Homo sapiens: one gene and its partners. The protein of the gene in region 4 interacts with the protein of the main gene of each other region in a pairwise test. Each region holds a gene or a part of one and is shown on either strand. Other genes may lie near its edges.

Evidence for each region.
Region 1: the proteins of SOCS6 (region 4) and EFEMP1 interact in a two-hybrid assay, tested with the Homo sapiens proteins (one large-scale study listed by BioGRID and IntAct).
Region 2: the proteins of SOCS6 (region 4) and CLNK interact in a two-hybrid assay, tested with the Homo sapiens proteins (one large-scale study listed by BioGRID and IntAct).
Region 3: the proteins of SOCS6 (region 4) and WDR89 interact in a two-hybrid assay, tested with the Homo sapiens proteins (one large-scale study listed by BioGRID and IntAct).
Region 5: the proteins of SOCS6 (region 4) and ERN1 interact in binary tests that used the Homo sapiens proteins (3 or more experiments, as listed by UniProt).

Annotation. Positions count from the first base shown.
Region 1 is NC_000002.12:55,878,783-55,882,297, forward strand, and holds part of EFEMP1 (EGF-containing fibulin-like extracellular matrix protein 1 precursor), read right to left. Parts: intron 2,953-3,515; coding exon 2,830-2,952; intron 1-2,829. UniProt on the Homo sapiens protein: Binds EGFR, the EGF receptor, inducing EGFR autophosphorylation and the activation of downstream signaling pathways. May play a role in cell adhesion and migration. May function as a negative regulator of chondrocyte differentiation.
Region 2 is NC_000004.12:10,489,332-10,492,783, forward strand, and holds part of CLNK (cytokine-dependent hematopoietic cell linker), read right to left. Parts: intron 3,141-3,452; coding exon of another isoform or gene 3,117-3,140; exon of another isoform or gene 2,407-3,116; intron 1,283-2,406; coding exon 1,136-1,282; 3' UTR 1-1,135. UniProt on the Homo sapiens protein: An adapter protein which plays a role in the regulation of immunoreceptor signaling, including PLC-gamma-mediated B-cell antigen receptor (BCR) signaling and FC-epsilon R1-mediated mast cell degranulation.
Region 3 is NC_000014.9:63,639,071-63,643,276, reverse strand, and holds the start of WDR89 (WD repeat-containing protein 89), read left to right. Parts: upstream 1-1,405; 5' UTR 1,406-1,473; exon of another isoform or gene 1,474-1,978; intron 1,979-4,206.
Region 4 is NC_000018.10:70,287,696-70,291,850, reverse strand, and holds the start of SOCS6 (suppressor of cytokine signaling 6), read right to left. Parts: upstream 2,807-4,155; 5' UTR 2,761-2,806; exon of another isoform or gene 2,559-2,760; intron 2,184-2,558; exon of another isoform or gene 1,984-2,183; intron 1,955-1,983; exon of another isoform or gene 1,127-1,954; intron 1,111-1,126; exon of another isoform or gene 1-1,110. UniProt on the Homo sapiens protein: SOCS family proteins form part of a classical negative feedback system that regulates cytokine signal transduction.
Region 5 is NC_000017.11:64,043,140-64,046,654, forward strand, and holds part of ERN1 (serine/threonine-protein kinase/endoribonuclease IRE1 precursor), read right to left. Parts: intron 2,344-3,515; coding exon 2,220-2,343; intron 1,789-2,219; coding exon 1,721-1,788; intron 1,062-1,720; coding exon 849-1,061; 3' UTR 1-848. UniProt on the Homo sapiens protein: Serine/threonine-protein kinase and endoribonuclease that acts as a key sensor for the endoplasmic reticulum unfolded protein response (UPR).

The DNA of each region.
Region 1 (3,515 bases), on a different chromosome or scaffold from region 4:
CTAGCTTGGTCTTAACTTCTCGAGCTTGCATTTCCTCTTCTGTGAGTAGAATTATTGGGAGGGTTACAAGACATAATGTAGGCAAAGTTACTGGCACAAAGCAAGTAAACATAAATGGGAGCTAATAAGCTGCAAGATATATTTGATTTAACTTGAATACTGAAATAAATAGTAAGAAGATATTCACATGGCTTTTCCCCTTACTTTGGTTCAGGTGTCCATTCAAATGTCACCTCCTCAGGGTGGCCACCTTTCCCACCAATATCAAATAGGTTCTTCTGCCCTATCTATTCCCTTACCTTGCTTTAGACTTCTTTGTAGTCCTTAACAGTACTCGACATTGTGTTATGTGTTTATTTGCTTCTTGTGTGTTCCCTCACTATAGTGCATGACATTCTCCCCTTGAGGTGGAGGTAGAGGGTTTTTTGTCTGTTCATTGTTAGATCTGGAATAGGGCCTGGCATAGTAGTAGGTGTTCAATAAACATTATTCGAATAAATCGAAACTTCACACTAATTAAGAGCAATTTTAGCATAGTGCTTCCTAGTCCTCAGTACTATCATCAGGTGCTAGTATTGATAGCTAATTTGTATGAATGGTATTATACTTTCTAATAGCTCCACGAGGGCTATGAATTTGTAAAATTTGTTTACTATTATCCCAGTTCCTAGAACAATGCTTGTTACACAGTAAGCCCTCAATAACTATTTGGTGAATATGTGACGCATGTCTTCTTAACTAATAAACATTCATTGAACCATTCTTATTTGCTGGTACTGTGTTTGGCACCCCAAGTTTATAATGATAATCAGTATACATGTGTTCTGCCTTGTCTGGTATGAAAGACAGGCATGAAACAAATTATTCCATGGAATGAGAAGATCAACAATAGAAAGGAGTGTATGGGACACAGGGAGCACCATGCTACTTGAAGTGTGGCCTGCTGACTGCTGCTGGTTCATGGGCTATTTGGACCAGTCTGCAATGAATAAATACAGAAACTGAGAGTACATGTTTAGAAATAGCAATTTGACATTAGTGCAACATTATTTTTATTGTGCTTTACAGAAGTATTGGTCTGCCGTAGATTGGAAATTTACAAAAAAGTATCCTTCATCATAATTTGAGAAGTACTGGCACAGGGGAGGAGCAACTAATTATATTTGGGTAAATCATAGCAGGCTTCCCAGAGGAAGTGATCCTAAGCTAGGATTTGACAGTGAAATAAGAATTTGCCAGGAGGGAATGTTTTTGTTGTGTAAAGAGCTTGTATAGAGGCACCAAAGTGTAAGTAACACTGTGTGACGTGTGTGGGGAACTGGTGGAATAAAGCTGGGGTGTAATATTTTGTGGTGGGGGAGAGGTGTTTATGCAACAGAACTGGACAATGATCAGATTGAGCAAGACCTTTCATGCTCTGTCGAGGAATGTAGACTTGATTCTCTCAGTGAGGGAAGCAGGAGGGGAAGACACATGATTAGATCTGAGTTTAGGAATATTTCCTCCTACCACATTAAAAGGGCTGTGACCGTATGTTCCATTATCTTTGATTCACCCCACACTAAGTTGGATTAGTTCTTTTTTCTGTACTTTTTATGCCCTCAAATATTTATTTTCCTGTCTAATACAATGGCCAAACTTTGTTATCTCTGGAGTTTTCTACACACTCTTCTTTTAAATCACAGCTTCATTTATAGCAAACCCTGGGCCTTCCTCAGAGGCTGGGCACTAACCCCAGCATCTAGGCACAGCCCTATGGCAGACAGAACTGGGCTGGGGCCCACATGGAACTCAGTGTTGACATGTGAACATCAACAGCTCACATTCTCAGGCGAAAACTGACGCTGGTTGTCTGTCCCCACATCCTCACCCTCTGTTCCTAAGAGGAAATAAGGCTTTTTCACTGATCTGTGGTAAGAAGGGGTATGTAAATAAATGGACAGTCAGAGTTTCATGCCTAGTGCTGGGCCTCATGATTGAGCCCAGAGTACTGTATTTTACTTCACTATCTGCCAGTTGGCTTCCTCATACTTTGATCTTCCATTCACTCAAAACACACGCATAGAGCCTCCATCACATGGTGGGCACACTTCAGGGACTGGGGAGACCACAGTGACACAAGATGACCTGGTCTTGCTGTCAGGGAGCTCACGCTCTTAGGCCCTCCAGCAGAGGCACGTGCTGAACTTGGCTTTGTACTCATGGTACCCTACAAAGGCTTGCAGTATAAAGAGCCTTTAATACCCATCTGTTGACTCAGAATACAACGATAGCAAACAGCTTTACTGCACAGGGACAGGCACTATTCTAAGCATTCCCTACATGAGCTCTGGAGGTAGGGCCTAGTATCATCTCCACAGTACAAGTGAACATAGTGAGACACAGGATTTAAGTAACTTGCTCAAGGTCTCAAAGCGAGCTGGGGTTGGTGCTTGGAATGCAACTCCACCATTTGCTCTATGTGCTGTGCTATGCTATGCTCTGCAGCAGTGAATGGTGAATGAAGCCCACAGTACCAGTGTGTTAGCGCGATGGCCCCCAAAACAGCAAATTTAAATTTTTTTGTGGTTGTTTTTATTGTCCCATTCATACCCCAAATTTCTGCTCTTGCTTCGTCTAACATTTAACCAACACTTTGTTATCCAGAATAGCTCAACCTTTAAGGTTGTTTCTTGTTATTGTGGAAAATGGATTGGTAGTCTATAAAAAAATAAGGAATTATTGGCTACCACTCTCCAAAGAAACATGAATGCTTTGATTGGAATGCTTGAGGTTGAAACAGTTAAGGTACTCAAGACAGGACCGTGCTCACTGCACTGTGGTACTTACCTACGCACTGCTCCCCTCGCTTCTGATATCCAGGAGGGCACTGACATGCAAAGGATCCCCGTAAATTGATGCACACTTGGTCTGCTCTACAGTTGTGCGTCCCTGCAGTGCACTCGTCTATGTCTGTCAGAGACATGCAACACAGAAAGAATTGTCAGTTGTGAAGATGTTGATATTTCCTCCATTTTGCCACTTCTTAAGCTAAATTTTTACTTTATTCTTAAAAGTTTATAATGTTCTTGCATTGGAAATGTTTAAAATTATAAATTATTTCAAGTGTTCAGAAAATAATTTTGCAAATACCAGTGAGTACTGCTCAGATTTAACAAATGCTAACATTTTGTCATGTTGGTCTTGGCTCATTTTGTTTTGTTAAGAAACATTTCAGATACAGCTAAAGCCTCACACCATCCTCATCCCTTGACCCATCAGCTACCACTGTCTCGGTAGGAATGAATCCTTCCCTGAGATGTTTTTGTACTTTTGTTAGACAGGGATGCATCCATTAGAACATATGGTATTGTTTTGTATGTTAAAAATTTTAATAGATTGTATGATACTTGCTTTTCCATCCAATATATTGTATTTGAGATAATTTCCATTGACAAATTTCTAAAAATCTAACCAATAACTGGGTGTAATCAACCTTTAATATTATACGTTCCCTGTAGCTGTTTGTTTTTGCA
Region 2 (3,452 bases), on a different chromosome or scaffold from region 4:
GAGGACAGTTTTTCTCTGTCTTTGAATGGAAGTCCATAATTGGAATTGTTAATACAATTTTTAGTTTCCCTCAGACATATGCTTGCCTGAAGGCTAGTGTAGGATATAATCTGAGCTCTGTACTATGAATGTGTTAATTCCATTTGACTTAAAGCTACTTGAAGCAGATGATGCTGGAGGCTGGTCCCATGACCGTTTCACACCCTAGTCAGAGGATTTTCAGTTTCTGTCTTCAAGGTGACATTCACAATTGCTGGTTTTCCATACCACATTTCTTCCCTATACTTGAATTTCTAGGATTACAATAAAAGAGAGCTAATATTCACCAACCCAACACCTTTTTTTTTTTTTGAGACGGAGTCTCTCTGTCCCCAGGCTGGATTGGAGTGCAGTGGCGCGATTTCGGCTCACTGCAAGCTCCGCCTCCCGGGTTCACACCATTCTCCTGCCTCAGCCTCCCGAGTAGCTGGGACTACAGGCACCCACCACCACGCCCAGCTGATTTTTTGTATTTTTAGTAGACATGGGGTTTCACCATGTTAGCCAGGATGGTCTTGATCTCCTGACCTCGTGATCTGTCCACCTCAGCCTCCCAAAGTGCTGGGATTACAGGCATGAGGCACCGCACCCAGCCCAGCATCTTTAGTGTAAGAAATCATCCACACATTGTATATATGTAAGGCCCAACAACTGACATAAAGGCAGCGCAGTGTCCTGTAAAGAGCACAGATTTGGGAATTTCCCATAGACTTGTCTTGCACTGACTGCAAACATTTAAGCAACAGCTTCTGGTGCCCTTTGCTGCTCGCCTGTATCATGAGCATAATGGCTATGTTTATAGTATTTTTTGTTGTTGTTTTTTAGAAGATACTTTTAAAACCCTAGTTTTTATTTTTATTTATTTTCCAGTGGCCAGTTACTAGAATGTTTTTATTTTTTGCATGTTATAAATATTTTCTCTGTGGTTTGAACTTTCAAAACCGTGAGTGATTTTCCACTCTCTGTTATAGAGTGTTTTTCTTTTCTCCAAAGTTAAAAAAGTTGTCCCTTGAAGGCACAGAAAATAAACTTTTGAAATCAATGAAAACAATGGAAGCGCTGAATCCAGTAAACCAAAGATAACACAAAGACCAGGCTACAGAGGCAAGAGGTGTCTGGTGAGAGGGAGTGGCTGAGTGAGGTGACACTGTTTCCTGTGGACCCCAGTTTTATCTTTCCCATCAATTAGTATAATGGGAAAATTCTTGTAGTGTTCGATGATGTCTTCTACTGAATCAAACTTCTGAAACACAGAAAAGAAAGTTAATGACTTTTAAAATATCTTTTGTGTCTGTAGGTTAAAGTATAGCCAAGGTGCTTCATTTTGCATGGGGAAGAGGTGAACCAATTTAACAATGTTTGTATGGTAAAGGTGTTTCAGGAAGTGGTTTTTGGTTTGTTTGTTTTTTTCTGAGACGTTGTTTTGCTCTGTCACCCAGGCTGGAATGCAGTGCCACAATCTCGGCTCACTGCAACCTCCGCCTCCCGTGTTCAAGTGATTCTCCTGTCTCAGCCTCCCAAGTAGCTGGGATTACAAGCATGCGCCACCACGCCCAGCTAATTTTTGTATTTTTAGTAGAGACAGGGTTTCGCCATGTTGGCCAGACTGGTCTCGAACTCCTGACCTCAGGTGATCCACCCGCCTCGGCATCCCAAAGTGCTGGGATTACAGGCATGAGCCACCACGCCTGACCGGAAGTAGTTTTTAAAAAGAATATGGCAAGCTTGAAGGATGAGTGATAAGAATGATAACAAGAGAGAAAAAAATTCTTGAGAGAACCAAAAGTGAGCCCTATGGCAGCTCTTTAAACTTCCTATACAGGGAGTTTCCCCTCTCTGGAATCAGATCACACTGGTCAAGTTCCATTCTATTGTTATCACAACCTTTCTATCCTAAGGACTCAGATGGGTTAATTACACAGCAATCAAGCCTTGGAATCTCTGTTGCCTCCCAAACCTCAACCTTAGCTCTGACCAGCAAAAATATAGAAGATGTAGGCTCGAATGTAGTAAATTGGTGGGCAATGCCTGCAGTGAGCTTGCCCTCCAGTAACGAAGTCTAAGGAATTCTAGTATACATAGAAAGAACAGGGACAACCACGGGGCTGCTTAGCTAATTTAGCTGCCCTCCTTAAGCTTCTTGTGAAATAATGAGGTAGCTGCAGATTTCAGTGTTTCTAGATACACAGATAAAATGTTATGACAATTTAACGGAAAGTAAGATTATTTCAGGTTTAGGGAAATGGGGAAGTGCTTTGTCAAGGACACAGACTTGAAATGGGCTATGTTATGGGTCATTCCAGATAAGTAGACAGGAGGGTTTAAAGACATTAAAAGCAGAGAATGTACAGGACCATGCATAAGGACAGGTATTGAGAAGACTTGAGCATATATAGTAATTTTTTTTTTTAATTTCAACAGCTTTAGAGGTATAAGTGGCTTTTGGTTACATGGATGAATTGTATAATGGTGAAGTTTGGGCTTTAGTGTACCCATCACCCAGATAATATACATTGTATGTACCCAGTAGGTGATTTTTCATCCCTTAGCCCCCTTCTCACCCTCTCCCTCTCTGAGCCTTCAATGTCCATTCTGCATACACAGTAATTCTGATCAGGTGAGTTTGGATAAGTTCCTGAAGGAGTATATTGGGAGATAATTAGGAAGAGCTTGCTCAACCTGCCTCCCATGTTTCAAGACAACTTAGATCCTCCTTAGCAAGCCTGTGAGGTGAACAGGGCAGGGGGAATGATCTTCCCTAAAGAGCGAAGGGAATTTCAGCTCAGAGAAGTGGACCGCCTTACTCAGAGTCTCCCATGGCTAGGGAGGATGAGACCAGGAATGAAGGCTCACTTTTCTGGATACTTCTTTTTATTTTTCAGCTTTGCCTATAGCTTGTGACCTCTGATGCTCCAACAAACCAGGGTAGAGATGACATAGCCTGAAGAAAGGGAGCCGTGTGGGGGCTACTCTGCCTCTGATTTGGTTTTGTCCACTCCTTCCTCTGTCCGGGGCATCCTAGGTGCAGCAATGTTGCAAGGCCTCAGGAATAGCCAATGGAGAATGAGATTGGCCAGTTAGGACCTCACAGGGATGACGTTCTGTTGGGAGCAGGCAGAAAATAATTTCCTATGCAAACAAATAATTTCATTTAGAGCTATGTGCTGTGAAAATTGTCCGTTGAGGCTTAAGAACTTCACCAGGTCGCTCAGAGGCTTCCCTCGGGGCTGTTGGGAGGGAACGTTCTTTTCTGTTAGAGGCGCACTGAATAGAAAGCAATTAAAACGCTATAAACCTGTGACTTCCAGGGTCATCTCCTCCTTCCCACCGTCATGTGGGATGGGGGGAGGGGGTGTGTGAAGAGCAAACAGACACCACGCTGGGGATAAAAACGTGGGGAAAGAAATGTAGAG
Region 3 (4,206 bases), on a different chromosome or scaffold from region 4:
ATACATCCGAAATCATGTTTTTTTCTTCTACAGTCGAAAGTTTGTATTACATGTAAAATAGGAAAAAAATATTAAAATTTTTCGAAAGCGAAAAGTCTACTCAGCAAGTTTTTGGTATTTATTAATGGTTTTACTTTTGCTAGACACAAAAATGAAATACCGCTAAATTAGCTCACAGAAGAGTTCAGGATTCTATAGACTCAGGAAAAGCCTGTCCTAAAACTGTTTTAATAAAGGCTGAAAATAGACACTATAATACAGTCTTTAATAATATACAATGTGTATTCCTCCTGATGGTGGTCTTGCTTGACATTTTAAGCATAGCCCTATTTTCCTGTGAAGATAGCAGCCAGTTCTGCTTCATGTCATAACAACACTTGATTCATGTAAGCAGCTGCTACCTATGCCATCACAGTACACATAATTGCTAAATGTAGGGTTCAAATAATCGTAAATGGACACTAATATGAAAATCAGACTGTTTTGTTGTAACAGCAAAAGTTTTAGAAACAAATAATTTTAGTATCTACTTAGTACAGTAAGCATGAACATATAGTATACAGCTAGGCACAGCAGTAAATTGTTGGAAACACTAACATTTATTGTTTACGAACATACATGCAGTGTTTACACATTTCTTAAATGTTGTCTTTAATGCTGCTGATAAACGAAAGGATAAAAAGTCCAACAAACCACAATAAATGTCAATGGGTGTTATTAACAACATGAAAGAACTCAGTAGCAACAACCACATTTAAAGCTACAGGACTCGAAAGTTCCGGACTACAAATCCCAGAGTTCCCTAGAGCCCAGGCGGAGCTACCTTCAAACTGATCGCTTTTTCACCCAATGACAGCCAGAGAATCCCTAAACCACATTCAGCCCGGCCTGAAGGGCTGGTTTCTTCGCGTGAAAACAATAAGGTATTACGTAGACTTTCTGAACACGAGTGGTAGTTTCAGGGCCTGAGTCTAACTACTAAATTATTTCTCCCCGCATTAGTCTCCTAGTCATCTTAATAACTCTCTACCCAACTCTGGCTCGGTGGAAACTCGGAACGTCTAAATGCTGAAACTCACGTAAATCAGTACCAGCGGATGCATCCAGTCAGCCACGAGGAAGGCGGAATCCGCCTTATTCTTGCCCTTTATTGGCCACGCATCCCACCAATGGGGCCATTAAACTTCCGCTAACGCAGCGTACGGCGTGGTGGTGTGAGCGTTGTACGTACGCTGGGTCTACGAAGGGGCAGGCGTTCTGCTTTCGTCCAATCGGAAGCTAGCAAGAATTCCCCGGGCCGCTATGCCCCACTTCTTTCGCGTCGCGTTACGGGCCGCCTCTCTGCAGCCGACCAATCCTCTTGATTTTCTTGTGCGCATTACCCAATCAGAGAGGTCGAGGCGGGGTTCCACTTGACCGCTCTAAGCCGCCGCGCAGCCTGCGTTTTCTCCGGTACAGGTTGAGGCTACTAAGGTACATTTTGCTGGGCCAGGCTGGGCGGGTCCCCGGGATGGGCAGCCCTCTCGACGAGCGGCGACGCCGTGGTTGAGTCTAGAAAGCTAGAGTTGCTGGACAGCTATCGCGGGAGCGCGGAGGGAAGTGGGAGGTCTGGACGGAGTGTGCACGTGTTGGCAGTCTCGCTCCGCCGTCGGAGCCACCAGGTCAAACCTGTGCTGGCCCTGGCCAAAGAAACTTCTGCGGGTCAGGCTGCTGTTGCCGGTGCAGTTCCCAGTACTTCCTCTGGGGCGTTTTTCAATAAAAGCCAAACGCCCTTGCTCATTTTCAGGGAAAGACCTGTTTCCTCCTGCTCTTTCCTCTCCACGGATACTCTCCCCACCACTAAAAGGGTTTAGTATAATCCTTTTGTAGGCCAGAAAGCAGATTTTCACTTGGGAAGAGACGACCCGTAGTATGGGATGTGGTATGATACCAGCAACTGGTCTATTATATCATTTAAACCACATGGCTATCTAAAGAGGTAGGTACTGTGAGTGTTCTCATTTTCACGCGAAGCAGTGTTAGACATTACTCATTCTTGTGTTTTCTTTAGCTTGTCTCTGACAAATTGTGGCATTCAGCTTCCATGGATGTAAAATTAAAAGATGGTATAATTTGTAAAATGTTGCTCCTGTTTTCTTTTTTGTTTTTCTTTTTCTTTTTCTTTTTTTTTTTTTTTTTTGAGATGGAGTCTCAGGCTGTCGCGCAGGCTGGAGTGCAGTGGGGCGATCTCGGCTTACTGCAACCTCCGCCCCCCGGGTTCAAGCGATTCTCCAGCCTCAGCCTCCCGAGTAGCCGGGATTATAGGCGCCTGGCACCACGCCCGGCTAATTTTTGTATTTTTAGTAGAGACGGGATTTCACCATACTGGTCAGGCCGGTCTCGAACTCCTGACTTCAGGTGATCCACTCGCCTCTGCCTCCCAAAGTGCTGGGATTACAGGCGTGAGCCACCGTGCCCGGCCGTTTTCTTTATTAATTTGAAATTATTTAAAGTCAATAAAAGCCTGGGCGCGGTGGCTCACGCCAGTAATCCCAGCACTTTGGGAGGCCGAGGCGGGCGGATCACGAGGTCAGGAGTTCGAGACCAGCCTGGTCAACATGGTGAAACCCCCGTCTCTACTACGAATGCAAAAATGTGGCGGGCGCCTGTAGTCCCAGCTACTCGGGAGGCTGAGGCAGGAGAATCGCTTGAACCCGGGAGGCAGAGGTTGCAGTGAGCCAAGATCGTGCTACTGTACTCCAGCCTGGGCGACAGAGTGAGACAACGTCTCAAAAAAGAGAAAAAAAAAAGTCAATAAAACACACCTAGAAGTGAATTAATCGATTGTTACCAAGGTAAAATGATCTAGAGGAAAGACATCGCAGTAGGCACCAGTTACTGACCTTTGACTGGACAAGTCAGCATCAGCTTTTTCACCTGTATAATTGAAATAAATACCAAACTTGACTACTTAGAGTTCTGAGGATTAAATAATTTAATAGATACAAAATATGTTACCGATGAAAGCCACGTGACTGTTTCTGCTTTTCAAATTCTTTCTTGTGGAGCCTGGACTGCACTGCAACCTATGGCCGAGTAAAACAGTGGTAACTTGCAGTCAAGTACCATTTAAGTGAGAAATCCTCTGAAACGTCTATGGACTGCTTATCTCCTTGTTCAGTATTCAGGAATACTTTCCTGTGAATGCAGCTATGTTACTTACCTGGTTTGTATTCTTACCTTAGATTGTTGTAGCTATTGTAAAGCAAAAGTAAGATCAAGCCCATGTAACTACTTTTTGGGTTCTTTTCTCTCACTTTGTAAATACAGGGTGTTTTTCCAGACGGGAGTGCGGTGGCACAGTCTTAGCTCACTGCAGCCTCGAACTTCTGAGCTCAAGTGATCCTCCTGCCTCAGCCTCCCAAGTGGCAGGGATTACACACGAGCCACTGTGCCAAACCCGTGAAGTTTTTGAGTTGTACTTTTGTACTAAAGTCATGACTACTTTTTCTGCAACTGACACTATGAGCTGCAAATACGACTGAAGATGCTACTGCTTTTTTACTTTTTCCCTATGTGCTTTAAAGAACTACATTTTCAGTGATTTCCATGTGTTTAAGATATTTTCATTTACTTGGTAGAAAATACAAGAGAATTTTGATAAATCTGAACTGGAATGGTCTTTATGTTAATTCTGTTCAATATTTTAGGGCAGATTATGTACAGATTATCGCCAAACTGTCAAAAGGGTGTATTTTGTTCATATAGCTACTGTAACAAATTACAACAGATTTAGTGACTTCGAATAACACACATTTATTCTTTCTGCCTTTGTTTCTTTCTTTTTTTTTTTTCCTTTGGTGAAAAGTACACACTTAAGAAAGGGGAGTGCAGATGTACTCAAGAGAGTCACCTCTTCCTTTTTTTTTTTTTTTTTTTTGGTAGAGATGAGGTCTCGCTATGTTGCCCAGGTGGGTCTCAAACTCCTGGGCTCAAGCAGTCCTCCCACCTTGGCCTCCCAAAGTTCTGGCATTACTGGCATGAGCCACCATGCTCAGCCTCATTTATTGTCTTTTAGTTCTGGAGGTCAGAAGTATGAAATCAGTTTCACTGGACTAAAGTCAAAGTGTTGCAGGCCCAATTCCTTCTGGAGGCTGTGAGAAGAAAATCCATTTCCTTACCTTTTTCAGCTTGTAGTGGCTGCCTGTCTTCCTTGGCTTGTGGCTC
Region 4 (4,155 bases):
TTTATGACATATACTAGTATTTGGAATTTCTCCCTTGTAAAATGAATAATTTTACAAAAGTACTTCGGCACCACAGATGTAAATATAATTTCCAGAATTGGAAGAGGTCACGAGTGCATATTTTTAAGAGAATAACAATAATTGAGTCCCAATAAGCCCATGATAAATTGAAAATATCTTAAAGTCAAAACTCACAGTGGGTTTATCTGGATGTAAGTCGAAGTGCATACTAAATGTGTATCGTTTTTGCTCCATCAAAAAGTCAAAAAGTCCAAAATTGGGGACCATCTATATGTTTGGACTTTTAAATAAGATCACACCTCTATGAGCAAAATAAAAGATATGATCAATAACCCAAAAGTTTCCTGAAAACTGGCCATAATGGAGAAAACTAGCAAGATTTTTCTCTAAGGAGTGTAGTTACACAAGAAGGCTTAAGAGGACACTTGCAGGCTGGGTGTGGTGGTTCGTGCCTGTAATCCCAGGGCTTTGGGAGGCTGAGGTGAGAGGATCTTGAGGCCTAGAGTTTGAGACCAGCCTCGGCAACACAGCAAGACCCCACCTCTCCAAAAAACAATCAGCCAGGTGTGGTGGCACATGTCTGTGGTCCAAGCTACTCAGGAGGCTGAGGGAGGTGGATCACTTGAGCCCAGGAGTTCAAGGCTGCAGTGAGCCATGATTGCACCACTGCACTCCACCCTGGGTGACAGAGGAAAAACAAAAAAGAAGATACTTGCTTTCTGTTTCCTAAAAAAAGGGGGGCCATTAAAAGAACACCTTTTCCAGTTCTAATGCAAGAATGAAGAAAAACACTGGAAGGCAAAATGACTAGAAACCCAGTCAGTACAGCACCATTTTCCACCCTACGCCCAGTCAATGGCTCTCAAATTCCTTCCCTGCCACTCCCTGCGGGGTGGGGGGCCCACCAAGAGAGGGGGTCATGGGATGACCCGAGGGTGTGCGCTTGGGTGGGAGGCCCTGCTGAAGAGAAAGGGGCAAGACTACCAATTTAGAGGGTAATTTAGAAGATAACGATAAAGGTAAGAGAGAAACAGTGTTTCAAAAGAGATGCTGAATGGAGTTCTAAAAAAGTATAGATTCGGGTGAATACCTGGCTGACCCTTACCCAGGCACAAGCGGAAAGCCCTGGCCAAACTCCAGATAGAAGTTCTTCTAGGAATCCTTATCAAATCCACTGTCCACGAACCAGGTTCCTCCAAGGCACCAAGGCAGGCTTAGGGAGGGTGTTTGAACCAAAGGGTTAAGGCCACATATTTAATTTAGAGCTGAATGGATCCTAGACCTTACCATATCCACGCGTGCACAAAACCCACTAGGAGGAGAAATTAGAAAGCCCACGGAAAAGTATTACAGACTTTTTTTCCGGTTTTTGTGAAACCTGGTGAGCAATGCCATTCGTGTTTTTAAGTAAGGCTGTCCACAGCATTAAATATTACAATTAAGATTCGTTCATTCAAGTAAGCTAAATGGATTTAATGTTGTGGTAGTTGGTTAAAAACAAGTCAAGATAAATTGCTACCTTCAGTGGTTGAGAAGATGTCAGATATTTTATCTTGAAGTAGAACGTTTACTTTTGTTTGATTCCAAATGTATCTTTATCCCAAGGAACACAGTAAATTTAAAATGTCTCTGGGAGACGTTCAGTGTGTAATTCACGTTATTTCTGTCATTACTGTGTTCTCTGTCCTCATGCACAGTGCATGCTGCCTTATCCGGGCAGACGTTGCAGAAACATTTGTTGAAATGAATTCAACATTATTTATTTTGCTACCGGAAGACTGAGTCCCGCCACATATTCCCACCTGGCCCTTCATTCCAAACAGTGGGGATGGGAACCCCAATTTCACATTCCAACTGAACGTTAAGTTGGCACACACACTACTGCACATATCCCAAGTTTTGTGCCAGGATCTGCCCCTGAGAAACGTCCATAATTCTGCTCCGTGAGCCACAAGGGTGTACCTGAAGTTGCCAACTCCCGAAGCAAACTGAAAATTCAGGCCCGTGTCGGTCCCAGGAGCGGTTTAAATTCCACAATCGTCCGGTCCCTACACCCGGGTGAGTGCGCAGCCGGCCGGCGGCACCTTCAGCCGCAGAGCAGCCCCGGCCTGCACCTCCACCAGCGCCGGCGCGACCTCGCGGTGGGGCGGGGGCGTCCCCGAGTCCCAGCGCCGCGCCCCAGGCCCGCCCTCGCGCCTGCGGCCTCGCCGCGCCCCGACCCCGAGCCCGAGCCCGAGCCCGCGGAGGTCCGAGGAGGGACCCGGCCGGGGCGCAGAGCCGCGCAGGCCCCGCGCCGCTGCCCAGGCCTCGCGGAGCCCCGGCCTCTCCCCGGCGAGCTGCGGGCAACAAAGGCGGCGGCCCAGGCCGGCGCGCCGCGGCCGAAGAGGCCGAGGGGTCGAGAAGAGCCGTCCGCGGCCGCGCAGGCCTCGGCCCTTCAGGGGCCGCCGCGCCCCGGCCCCGGCTTCCCGGTTTCCGCGTCCCCGCTCCCGGGACTGGCCCCGGCCCCCGTTCCCCGGCCCTGGCCCCCGCCCGCGCACCCGCCGAGACGGCGCAGGGCCTCGCGCTGACCCAGACCCGTCGCTGCAGCCCCGCGCCCGGCGGCCTCCCTGGCCCGGCCCGCGCCGGATCCGCCCCCTGCACTCCGAGGCGAAAACCAGCCGTGTCCCGGACCGCGGGCGACCCGGAGGCGGACGGCGAAGCCCTGCCCCTGCCTCCCGCCCGAGCTCCCCGGACGCTTACCCGGAGGCGGCCCGGCTCCGCTTCCTCGCCCAGCGCCGGCGCGACTGCCGCGCTCGCCTTCTCCTCTCGGCAACTCCTCCTCCCGCCTCCTTCCTCCTCCTCCTCCAGGAGGGGCGCGCGGCCGCGGCGCCTCGGCCCGAGCGGGGAGCGGGTGCGGAGGAGCCGAGCGGGCCGCCCCCCGTCCACTACTCGGGCCCGCGGCGCAGGCGGGGCGTCGGGGCGCGCGGGGCTGAGGCCGGGGGCCGCGCGGGGCGGGGCGGGGGCCGGGCACTAAGTGGGGGTTCCGAGGGGAGGGGCGCCGGGCCGGGGTCGTGGGGCGGACGGAGCGCGGAGCCCTGATCCCTTCCCCCACCCCCGCGCCCCTCCGCTGGTGCCTGCAGGAGGCCGCTCCTCCGGCCCCCAGAGTCCCTGTCCTGGTTTTTCCTTTGGTGCTTTCCCTCTGGCGGGGGTGGCCCCGGCTAACGCGGAAAGGAAAGTCTCCTCGTTCCCCGGCCCCGCGGATTTGGCGGCTGCGGTCCCTGTCCCCCTGTGGCGGGCGGTCGGACCCCCGCACTGCCCAGGTCCGCTGGGCTCGCGCGGGGACCCCGGCCTCGTCCCCGCAGGGAGGGGACCCCAGGACAGACGCGCGCGCACGCTGTGCAGAGCCACAAGTGGGGAAACCCTCCCCACACCTCGACTAAATTGTGAAAAATGCTTTTTAAAAAACCAAACATTCCTTGTTTCAAGCCATCCACTTTTCCATTTAGTCGTTTTCAGGGAGGTTTTGTACAAGGAATAGTTGTTTGTGCCGCCGAATTCCAAGGTAGTGTGGTATACAAGTTGCATGTTGGGATCTTGACTAATTTCTTTGGAAACTGGCTGAACATACTACTAATGTATAGCAGTACCACAAAAACTTGATTTTTGTGCATAAGAATCAATAGGAAAATTTGTATTTCTCTTACGATGAAAAGTGGTTAAAAAAATGAATATCATTAGTATTTCAGTAAAGCTTGGGGGGAGATAAATATTAAAATCTAATGAGAATTATTGTGGACTTTAAAAGTTGTGTTTCTTGAATAGTATGGACCTTTTTAAAAGAAAACCGAAAGGACAGAGAAAAAAGGGCTAGAAAAAAAGTCTAAAAAGCTGTTCAGGTATGAGTTGGTACCCGAATTATATCTCAATAAAGTTGTTAGTTACAAAAAAGTTCAAGTCCAGTAATCTTAATTCCTATGTCCAATATACAATCTGGATTTCCCCAAGAAATCTAGATTCATAACAGAAAAGTTGGATCTTTAGGTGATGCAAAGTTGATGTCATGTATCATACACTATCATTGTCATCTTCAGTTTTTACTTGAATTTATTAATAAAATACTACCATTATTGTTACCGTGATTGAAATGCAACACAA
Region 5 (3,515 bases), on a different chromosome or scaffold from region 4:
CCTGAAGGCTGGCCCCTGTCTGGGTCTTCGCTGCTCTCCTTGAAGGCCAGGGAACTCTTTACCTCTTGCCCCAGGCGCTCCTGAGCACCACCCCGAGATGGCCCGGGACACACCCACCAAAGGCCACTGTTCTGGCCACTGGCACTGGGCCACGGCTGCCTCCAGAACAGAGCAGCCTCTTCATTTCTGAGACCTGCAGACACAACCCCACCTGCCAGCATGCATAGCTGACCAGTCCCTAATGCCACACCTCATGCTCATGGCTCCTGCTGCCTCTGCAGAAACACTAGTTAACAGTGACCTGGGCTACTCTGGGCACATCTGTGATCAATGAGAAATCTCACACTGCAGGACGACACCCTCTGAACTCCGTCCTCCCCCTCCTCAGCATCCCCCACCTCTCAATTCCGGTCTCCAGTGAAGGCTGTACTTGGTGCATCTCAGCCTAGCTGTCCCAGCACGCAAGCAAAATGTACGATTCCCTCCTCTCCCTTCCTGAAAGGCCTGTAGACTGACATTAAGCAGGAATTTAAAAAGTCTGAAGCAAGTTTATCCAGTAGATGGCTGGGGGTGCTACTCGCGCTGTCTCTGAGGCCCTCCTTTGCAGACATCATGACCGTAAGGCTTTTGGGGCCAGCATCTTCCCAGTTCCCTGTAGGTCACGAGGGGCCACTTCTCCCACTTCCTGGGGTCAGCACTGTCCTCTGTGGGCTGCAGAGCAGGCAGCTCAAGGCACTTGGTTTGGGAAGCCTGGTCTCCCTGCAAAGCCGGGAGGCATCAAGCTCTAATTGTGGTGACCAGGCCCTCAGTCACAGCTGGGGCCACCAGAACAGAGGGGCCGCCCTCGCTCAGAGGGCGTCTGGAGTCACTGGGGGCTGGGGCTCTGGGGGCTCGTGGAAGTAGTAGGGCTGGAAGAGTCTCTCGTGGCTGCACAGCTCCATGGCCCGGTAGGTGTGTGCGAGGAGGTGGGGGAAGCGAGATGTGAAGTAGCACACGAAGTCGTCGGGGAGGGACCCCAGCGTCTCCCGCACCTCTGCAGGCAGCTCCCGGTAGTGGTGCTTCTGCAAAGAGTTAGAAAGCTCGGGAGATTAGAAAGGGGTTAGAAAGCTCGGGAAATGTTGGCAAAACACCCTTTCATCATGCAAGGAAGAGACAGAATGTGAGTGTTGGTTTTTGGTAAAGAAAAAGAAAAAAGGCTTATGTATCCAAGAATCCAGCCCCGTCATCTCGCCTGCTACCCTCACTCAGGAGGAGGCCTTGAAGTGAGCAAGGCCCAGCCAGTCCAGGGGGTGCTCAGGCCTTCTGTGACAGTCAGGACCTGGAGACACTCCTGGCCACCTCAGGAGGAGTAAAGTCGCCTGAGATTGGAGTGTCCGTCCCAGTGGGGTCCCCGCATTTGAGGTATGTTTATACATGTTTACACACAGTGGCTGCATCAGACAGGGAGAGGGCCCCACAAAAGTCAGCGACCAGAGACCATGAGGGACATGGGCCGCAGAGCACTGCTTCCCGGAGCTTCACCTGCACCTACGTCCCTGAAGGGAAAATCAGCGTAAGAGAGGCAACAGCCTGCAGTTTGCCAAGTCCAGCTGAAGCCGCCTAGCTCCTGAGAGATGAGAATGCCAGTACAGATAAAAGATTTATAAAGAATGGATGAAAGGAGGAAGGTGTCCATGTCATGGCCACTGGGTCTCCTCCCCAGCATTTACAAACTGCTTACCTTATTTCTCATGGCTCGGAGGAGATCTCTGACAGAACCACCTTTATAGGTCCTGAATTTACGCAGGTCTAGAAAAACATTGAGGGAAGCAATGGGTAATCAAATTTAAAACTAATACATTTTAAAAGAAAACAATTCATGGGGTCCTGGGATTAGGGAGTTGGACTGAAAGGTGAGGTCACTCCACACCTAGGCATGGGAGCAGATCCTCCCATCCAACCCAAGGGTGGTATCCCCCTGAACCCCACCTGGTGATCACACCCAGGTCAGAAATGACCACCTAGAGCACGACACCATCACTCACCTGTCACTCTAGGGAACAAAAATGAAACACACATCAGTGTAACCAAACCACAGAGGACACACCCAAGAAAGTCTCAAACCTGACAGGTGGGATGTGGGGCCTGAACAGCCTGGAGCGGCCATTTCCACGTTTACTTTTTGGAAAGGCGGCAGCGACTTTTGCAACCTGCCCTCTCACACGCTGCAGCATGATCACCTGTCTGGAGGGGGACAGTGATGTTCTCCCGCCAGTCCATCTTCACCACGGCTCTCCCGCCTCTCTCTAACTGCTTCACGATCGGGCCATCCAGGGATTCCTTTTCTATTCTGTCGCTCACGTCCTGTGAGAGAAACAAGGGCAGCAGATGATGGTCAGTGCTGGAGATGCTGAGAGCTGTGCGACTGGGACTCAGTAACAGATCATCACTGACACATAAGCCTGCCCCAGAGCTGGGCAGCAGGCACCCTGCCCCCTCCCTCCCTCATCCATGACTTTCCCTGTGAGCTGCTCTGTTCCTCACGAAGCACAGGCCCACAGAGAGCTTCTCCCATGTCAGAGAGGTGTCACAGAGTACACCTGCATATAGACCACGAACGCATACCCTGAATTTCACATGTGCACACACACGCCATGTGTACGGAGCCGCAAGTGCAATCTATATCCAATGAACCAAAACCAAAAAGAAAAGGAAAGCTCAGATTTGATGTGCATCCCGTGCTTTGTCTACTCACTGAAACAGGGTATGCTCAAGCCCATAACTGGTGGAGGGTCGCCACTCTTCCCTCCACCAGTAGAAAAGACCTGTGAAGCTGGGCCTTCTTCTCAAAGAGGAAACTTGGTGGCAAGAGTATGGGCTCCAGAGGCTCCTGTTGGGATTCAAACCTTGCTCTGCATTTGACTTTGGTAATAAGGAGAGGGTCAGGAAGCACCCAAGTATGGCCTCTTGAAGTCCCACCAGTAAGACAGGTCGACAGCTGAGGACACAGGGAGTGGTGAGCCCTGTCTACATCAATGTTAAGTAGCCTTAGGAGACCCTTTTCTCAGAGCAGCCTTTTCTATGATGAAGATGAAGCCAGACTGGCTGAACTCCTAATTTACAATTGTCAGAGAGAAGCTGTGGAGAGGTTAGATTGTCAACTTGGGTACACTGGGAACACACGTGTCTGAGCTGCAAAGCTGTTACGGCTAAATGACCTGAGTGGAAGCCAGGTGTGTTCGAGAGACATATGACCTGGAGATACTAAGCATTTAAATCCTGTCCCTTGGTGGGTGAAGGTCCCTTTGTGTGGGTTTTATTCCTGTTCTATATTTTGCGATCAAAATGACCTGGTTAGTTTTCACAAGTCCCTGGAAGACATATGGACTTGAGAATTTTCACATTATGTCCATGGACACAGTGACCAATCCATATGCTACAACATGGAAGACAGCATTAAACTCTTCCCAACCCGATCCATCTGAATGGTTGGGCCAGGCAGCGTCCTCCCTAGGAGGCAGGGACACAGTAGTGAA